2 linked regions of the Homo sapiens genome follow. The protein of the gene in region 1 interacts with the protein of each later gene in a biochemical or structural test. Each region holds a gene or a part of one and is shown on either strand. Other genes may lie near its edges.

The links.
Region 2: the proteins of ENKUR (region 1) and TRPC5 form a complex in vitro, tested with the Homo sapiens proteins (one study listed by BioGRID).

The regions. Positions count from the first base shown.
Region 1 is NC_000010.11:24,995,262-24,999,190, reverse strand, and holds part of ENKUR (enkurin), read left to right. Parts: intron 1-3,321; coding exon 3,322-3,545; intron 3,546-3,929. UniProt on the Homo sapiens protein: Adapter that functions to localize a calcium-sensitive signal transduction machinery in sperm to a calcium-permeable ion channel.
Region 2 is NC_000023.11:112,076,139-112,080,067, reverse strand, and holds part of TRPC5 (short transient receptor potential channel 5), read left to right. Parts: intron 1-3,929. UniProt on the Homo sapiens protein: Forms a receptor-activated non-selective calcium permeant cation channel. Mediates calcium-dependent phosphatidylserine externalization and apoptosis in neurons via its association with PLSCR1.

The sequences.
Region 1 (3,929 bases):
GGGTTTGGACTATCCAATGAAGCCCACATGCATCACCATCTTAGTCCCTAGCTGTGGGGCTTCAATTATAAACAACAATTATAGGAAAAGTCAAGACCCCAGGGACAGTATCTGACTAATGGGCAAGATTGCCCAGCATCTAAACCCTGTCTGGCCTTTTCTCCAAGAGATGAAAATTACAACCATTACTACCAGTTGTTGAAGCAACTACTGGGCTCATTTTGAGTACGGGCTTTTACTCTCCCAGACCTTTAAGACTAACTGGACTGCAATGAGTTAGATGTAATGGAGGAGACTTCATGAATAAGTGGTAGAACCAGCTTAGGGCCCCATGCTTATTTTAATGCTGTGCTCTTGCTGTACTAAAATTTTTAATTTTTGATCAAGTAGCCTTGTGTTTTTATTTTTTACTGGGCCTCAAAAATTATATACTTGATCCCAGTTATGGAGTCTTTTGAATGATTTCAGGAAAGAAAGCTATCAGGGAAAGGGAGAGTAGATGAAAAGTGATGTGTGACAGGTATGTATGGAAGCAATTTCTTCATAGCCCAAGTATGTCTTCCCAGATGTCTTAGGGCAATAAAGAAAAGAGAGCACCTGGGCAACAAAGCAAGACCCCGTCCGTACAAAAAAATTAAAATAAAAAAAATTAGCTAGGTGTGATGGCATGCACCTGTAGTCTTCACTACTCTGGAGGCTGATGTGGAAGGATCGCTTGAGCCCAAGAGTTCGAAACTGCAGTGAGCTATGATCAAGCCACAGCCTTCTAGCCTGGACAACAAAGTGAGACCCCATCTCAAAAAAAGAAAGAGAGAGAGAGAGAGAGAGAGAGGAAGGAAGGAAGGGAGGGAGAGAGGGAAGGGAGGGGAGGGGAGGGGAGAGGAGAAGAGAAGAGAAGAAAAGAAAAGAAAAGAAAAAAGAAACGAGTCTGTCTCTTCAAAATGTTGGCTTTTTATGTCTGCTGGCATTGAGGAAATAATGCAACATCTCAAGCCCGGCTAGCGATGTACATTTTAACAAAAGTGAAACTACTTCTCTTTATGGCAGTATTTAATGTCCCCAAATCCTCTCTCAACCCATATCTCATGAAAAAAGGTGAGGGCACTATCAGGCAAGATGGCAAGATGGAAGAAGCAAGTGTGGAAATACAACATTCATGCTTAATTCGTGACTTCAGAAGTCTCTTTTGTATCTTCCTCTAGTCTTGGCCTGTTGTGACCCAGCATTCTATGACCAACAATACCATTTGAGAATATAGGAAAATGTTAAAATGGAATTTGATGCTTTCAATGCCTTAGGACCACTGGTATCCCTTGGGTCCTCATATAGCCTCTCTAGGGTTAAACATATGATATAACACAAACATATATATATATATATATAAATCCTTTGTGTCAAATAAGAAAAAAGGAAGAAGCCTATCATTTTGTAAACATTGTAAGGCAAAAGCAAACCCAAAATTTCATTGGCCTTTAGAATAATTCATCAATTCAGGGTATTAGGGCTGGGCACAGTGGCTCATGACTGCAATCCCAGCACTTTGGGAGGCCAAGACAGGAGGACTGCTTTAGCCCAGGAGTACGAGACCAGCCTGAGCAACAAAGTGAGACCCTATCTCTATAAAAAATTTTTTTTAATTAGCTAGGTGTGCTGATGCACATCTGTGGTCCCAGCTATATGGGAGGCTCAGGTGGGAGGATCACCTGAGCCCAGGAAGTTGAGGCTGCAGTGAGCTATGATTGCATCACTGCACTCCAGCCTGGGTGGCAGAGGGAGACCCTGTCTCAAAAAAAGAGGAAAAAAAAAAAAAAAAGGAATGCAGGGTTTTGCAAAAGCTTTAAAAACTCGGTCCAATGAGAGTTCTGGAGGACAGTTCTGGAGAACTAGGAGTCCAACATCAAGATGTCAGAGGATTAGTTGATTTTTGCTTTTCTTTTTTAGGAGTATTTTTGTTTGTTTTTATTTTTGGAGATAGGGTCTATGTTGCACAGGCTGGAGTGTGTGGTGGCTATTCACAGGCATGATGAAAGCACACTGCAGCCTCACACTCCTGGCTTCAAGCAATCCTCCTGCCTCAGCCTCCCAAGTAGCTGGGACTGCAGGCATGCAACACCACACGCAGCAGGGTTGGTTTCTTCTAAAGCATCTCTCATTGGCTTGTAGATGGTTATCTTTTCTCTGTATCTTTACGTGTTCTTCCTTATATGTATGTCTGTGTTCAAATTTCCTCTTCTAAGGACACCAGTCATATTGGATCAGCGCCTTCTCTAATGACCTCATCTTGACTTAATTACCTCTTTAAAGACCTTTCTACAAATACAGTTATATTCTGAGATACTGGGGGTTAGGGCTTCAACATATGAATTCTAGGAGGACATAACTCAGCCCCTAACAAGAGGCTAATCCAGTTCATAGACTTTTAACTGTAAGTATTGGCTTTGCTGATAATAAAAGTTATATAAACTAATAAAAAAGGTCAAATGATGCAGAAATGAATAAAGTCAGTCCTTAGTAATTGTGATGGGGTTAAAATTGGAAAAGGCATTTTCAAGACAGTTGTTGCTTTCAGTTCTTAAAAATAAATTATTTCACATTTTTGCATTGTGGCAAACCATTTGGCTATATTAAAATAGATCAATGGGAATGATCAAACTGAAGAGGCTGTGTAAAAACGGCCAATAAGCAAGAAATACTTCTTCCTTGTATTTATATACTGTTCATATATATATATATACACACACACACACACACACATATATGATCTTTTTTGAGACAGAGTCTCACTCCGTCACCCAGGCTGGAGTACAATGGCATGATCTCGGTTCACTGCAACCTCCGCCTCCCAGGCTGAAGCAATCCTCCCACCTCAGCCTCCTGAGTAGCTGGGACTAAGGGTGCACACTATCATGCTTGGCTAACTTTGCATTTTTTGCAGAGATGGGGTTTCACTGTGTTGCCGAGACTGGTCTCAGACTCCTGAGCTCAAGCGATCTGCCCACGTCACCGTGGGCCACCGTGCCCGGCCTCCTCAACATATTAATTGATTATGTTGCCCTTAATTTATTTCCATTTTAATTACTGACTTTTTTTCTTTTTAAAAAATTATTTTATTGAGGCCTGATTGACAGGTAAAAAGCTGTGCATATTTAATGTCTACAAGTCAATGAGTTTGGGGGTAAGCATAAACTTCTATCTTAAATATTTAAATATATTATGACTGCAACTTCAATATACAAGTGGTGAAATATCTGGATATTATAAATAGCACTGAGTAGCAGTGTTTGTAGTTTAATATTAACAAAGAAATGTTATATTTAACAGAAAAAAACTTTGATCGGAACGTGCCCAAAAAGCCTGCTGTGCCATTGAAGACTGATCATCCTGTCATGGGAATACAGAGTGGAAAAAATTTTATAAATACAAATGCAGCTGATATCATCATGGGAGTGGCTAAAAAGCCTAAACCAATTTATGTTGATAAAAGAACTGGAGACAAGCATGATCTTGAGCCTTCAGGACTAGTTCCAAAGTACATCAATAAAAAGGTAGCCTTGTGGTATATTAATAAGAGGGCTGAAATTCAAATAATTTAAATATGGTGTTCATGATGATCATCTATGTTATCATTATTAGTGCTCTCATTGGACACATTGTCTACTTTGCTGATTCTCATTCTTCTGCAATCTGTGTTTGGTCCAAATGTAATGGGATGAAGTTACAAAGAACCCATAGTAAACAATTCCATATAGTTCAGTAGATAAAAGTTATTGTTTTCCTTAATTTTGATTATTAACATATTTAACAATTTTAATAAACATTCTCTGAAAGATATTTTTGGTTAGTTGGAAATGTCACTAAAAGCAGTCATTACTGTAAATCTAGAAGGAATAAGCTGTCAGATGGTCTTAAGATTTAGTCATTAATTGCAG
Region 2 (3,929 bases), on another chromosome or scaffold:
TATTTTCTTAGGTTAAAATTACACTTTCAAATAGATATACTAAAGACCGGGTTGCAGACAGGTAGGAAAGAACTGGCAGCATCATAATTGGGGAAAAACTCAAAATATCAGCACGAATGAAGCCTACAGTGTAGGTTTTGCTCTGTTCTTGGTGATGTGAGTATCTGGCTGTTGAGGTAAGTCCTGATGGTTACCCAGGGGATAAGCATGTGAGCAGGTTCAGGGATTCAGAACCAATGTAGCCCCCGGCTTCACTGATACTAATTCACCTGGCTTCAGTGTACATCTCAACATGGAGACCTGAACCAGATATCTGCCATCCTTCCCAGCCACAAGAGCTATAATCCTAAGATTCTGTTCTTTCTATAGCTAACAACTAAAACCGGAATGGCACGCAGAACCACAGTACTTAGAGAAGACTAGGCCAGGAAATTAGAGATGCAGAAGGGAGGAAGATGAGAGGAATATGAGAGAACCGAAGATGTTTTGAAACAAACAGAAAGAAAACTATCCAGGTGTTTGCTTTGACTGGGAATGGAATTAATCCAGAAATCAACTCATATGTGAAGCATCTTAAAATTGCCTGTATTTGACTTGCAAACACTGTGTAAACAATGATAGAATTCCATAGTACCAGGGAATTGGGAACCTTGGAGTACATTCTCAGTGTTGCTGTCTCATTTCTCTCCTTACAATATTAAATTCCAATCTGCAAGCCATTCAGGTGCTTAGTTATTGAATGGATATTTCAAATGTGTCATGATGCTTTCCTGTAGCCTGTTTTCGAATATTCTAATTTATTTTTTGCCATGGCTCCATCACTGAAGGTGGTAGATTGAAGCATTTCTGCCTGCTTTACTTCTGCCAAAGGTTCCTGTTTTCACCTTAGTATACTAAGCTGTTCAGATGCCTCCTGCTAACTGATGAAGAATATAAGGCGCAGAATCTCTCTCCCCAAAGTACTCTGTGCCACAAGGTGCCACTGGCCTAATCTGGCCCAGTCATTTGCCAGGTTTGCAGGGAAAGGTATGACAAAGTTTGCAGCCTATAGACAGAAATAAAGCCTCATTCTAGGCAGAAGTTATTCCTCATCCCACAGATGAGGGATAAGCTAAGGCCAGCCATCATGTCCAGAGCCTAGTAGCTGACATATCCACAGTGTCATCCTTTCTAAAACTCACGAAGCTTTTCTTCTGTTGATGGGCCCCTCAAACTTTGTCCAGTGAGACCAGCAGAGCCATACTGCCAGCAAGGAATGATTCCTGAATGACTCAACTGTGGTCTTATAAACAAACATGTACATCATGCTCAACTGAGTGAGCACAGATGATTTAAAGAAATTATAAAAGCTGATAGGGGCTAAGAAAAATTGCAATTTGCTGGGTGAAGGGAACTTTGCAAGTTTCTTAGGTTTGGTTTTCTGTCACCAATTCTGGAGTTGGCCCTTGGATGGTGGTGGCCAATGCAATTGCCCCAGGTTTTTGCCTTAGCAAAAGGAAAGAAAAAATAACGATAAGAAACAAGCGGGGATCTTGGAGGGGTCAATCCTCTCATTTCACCTATAGAGAAATTGAAGTCTAGAGAGTAGAAATGACCTGCCTAAAACAGACTACTAGCTAACAACAGTGGCAAAACCACAACCCAGTACTGTTTGCTGATACGAAATACATTTTCTGAAGTTCTGTGGAGATCTTCCCAAGAAATCGAGAGGTAACTAAAGTCAAGTTTACCAAGATCACAGCCCTCTACTTCCATTCCATATGTATGTATACGTGTTTATATTATATGCTGCTGTCATATCTTTGTGACTTACCTTCTTGACCACCACCTCCCCCTAACACACACACACTCACACACACAATCCTATCTTGCTAGCTAAGAAAACATTATATGTGTCTATAGCTAGCGTATTCAGATGGAAGGCAGAATTAAACATGACAAAAATTTAGCTGCTCACATTTATGTGTCTGATCTGGCTCACACCACCAACAGCAAGGCATCTAGAAATCCCAGTCTGTTCTGCACCATAGTAGTTTTGGGGAATGGAAGCTAGCAGAATCCAGTGACTATGGCTCTGGTTTAGTATACTCAGTCTCAGAATCAGCCCCCCAAATGCATGTGCAAATACACACACATGCACACACACACAAACATGCACATACAGTCACACTCTTTCCGAAAAATTAAAACAAAGAAAATAGAAAAGATAAGGCAGGTGGTTTTTAGAGCAGAGTACAAGAAGAAGGAAAGGTTTGCAGACGGATATTCTTACCTTCCCCCATTCTTTAGCCTTATTGCCTAATTTTCATTAATCCCACCCTAATTTATTTTAGGATCTGAGAAAATAGAGCAATGCAAACATGTTTACTACAGCCCAGAAGGATGATCTGAAAAACCTCCACATTTGAGTGAGAATATCACAAGGATAGGGAAAAGGCTAGGATGTAGTGAGCTAGAGCCTTGCTACTCCAAGTGTAGTCCCCACACCAGGATTGCCACCATCCCCTGGGAGCTATCTATAAATGTAGAATCTCAAATCCTTCCCCAGACCGACTGAATAAGAATCTGCATTTTATGAAGATCCCCAGTGATTCATTTTTATACTAAAATTTGAGAAGCACCGGGCTAGAGCTTATCCAAAAAGCATCTGAAAGATATTTGAAAATAAACAATTACCTACTGAGCATGTAGGGACAATTCATGTGGCTTATCAATTAAAAAATAAAATATAAACTTTTTCCAGGTCCACTTATCTTATTATTCACTGTAAAACCCTTCAGTGTGGGCAAGAGAGTTCATGTAAAGGGAGTGAGATCATAGGATTTGTTTATTTACCAGGACGACTTGGGTGTGGGAACTCACACAGACCTGAGTTCAAATCCTGGCCCTGCTCACGAATTACTAGCTGTGTAAACATGCACTTTGCCTCTAAGCCTCACAGTCCCCATCTATAAAATGGGATTAATAATAGTACCAACTGGCACTGGGCTGTCATGAAAAATTAAATAAGACCGTATAATGCACTGGGATATGGTGAACAATCAATAAATAGAAGATATAATTCATACGATTTGGCTAATAATTTTAGTTTGGTAGAAAACCAACCACTAGATGTGATATATTGGGGCACCTAGCATTATTTCTAATTGACGTGAATCTTACTGGGTTTTCTACAGATAGAATGCTAAGATATACAACAGTAAAATATATTTAAATATGATGGAGGCCACTAGAAACAAATATTTTTTCAGAAGGAATTACAGGTGTCCCTAGTGAAATCACTCCATGGAAGAAGACTGAAGTCAGAAGTGGCCCTGTTCTATGAAGCATATCTCAAAATATTACCAAGTTAGAAAGTCAAAAGTGAGGCATTTTCTGCATGTTTGCATATATATGCAGCATGAAAACACACACATACATACACACACACGGACGCATCATTTGATGGACAAATTATAAAATAATTCAAGGCCAAAATGACATTCTAGGAGCAGAACTAGGTTTCTGCCTGATAAAATCTTTAAAATGCACAAATAATAACCTCTACTTCGTAACTTGCTCATGTTGCACAGTTTAATGGCTTAGGTATATACTATAGCTATTACTATTTTGTAGGTGAAAAAAAAAGAGCAACTCCTACCTCTTCCCAGCCCATGGTGCTACCTACCTGCTCAATTTTCTCACCAGTAAAATATGATACACGTAGTACTCATAAAGTCCAAGAAATCACCAGGCACTTGATTCTATAAAGACTTATTGACTGGCATGTGCAATCTGGGCAACCTGATTGTAAAGACACAGAGACAGACACTACCACCTCTGGATCCCAGTCCTTTGGTATGTTCCAGACCTCCAGCTTCCCCTGATTTTCAATAGTATCAGATTAGTAAGGTATCAATAATCTTATAATAGACAATATTTATATCTAA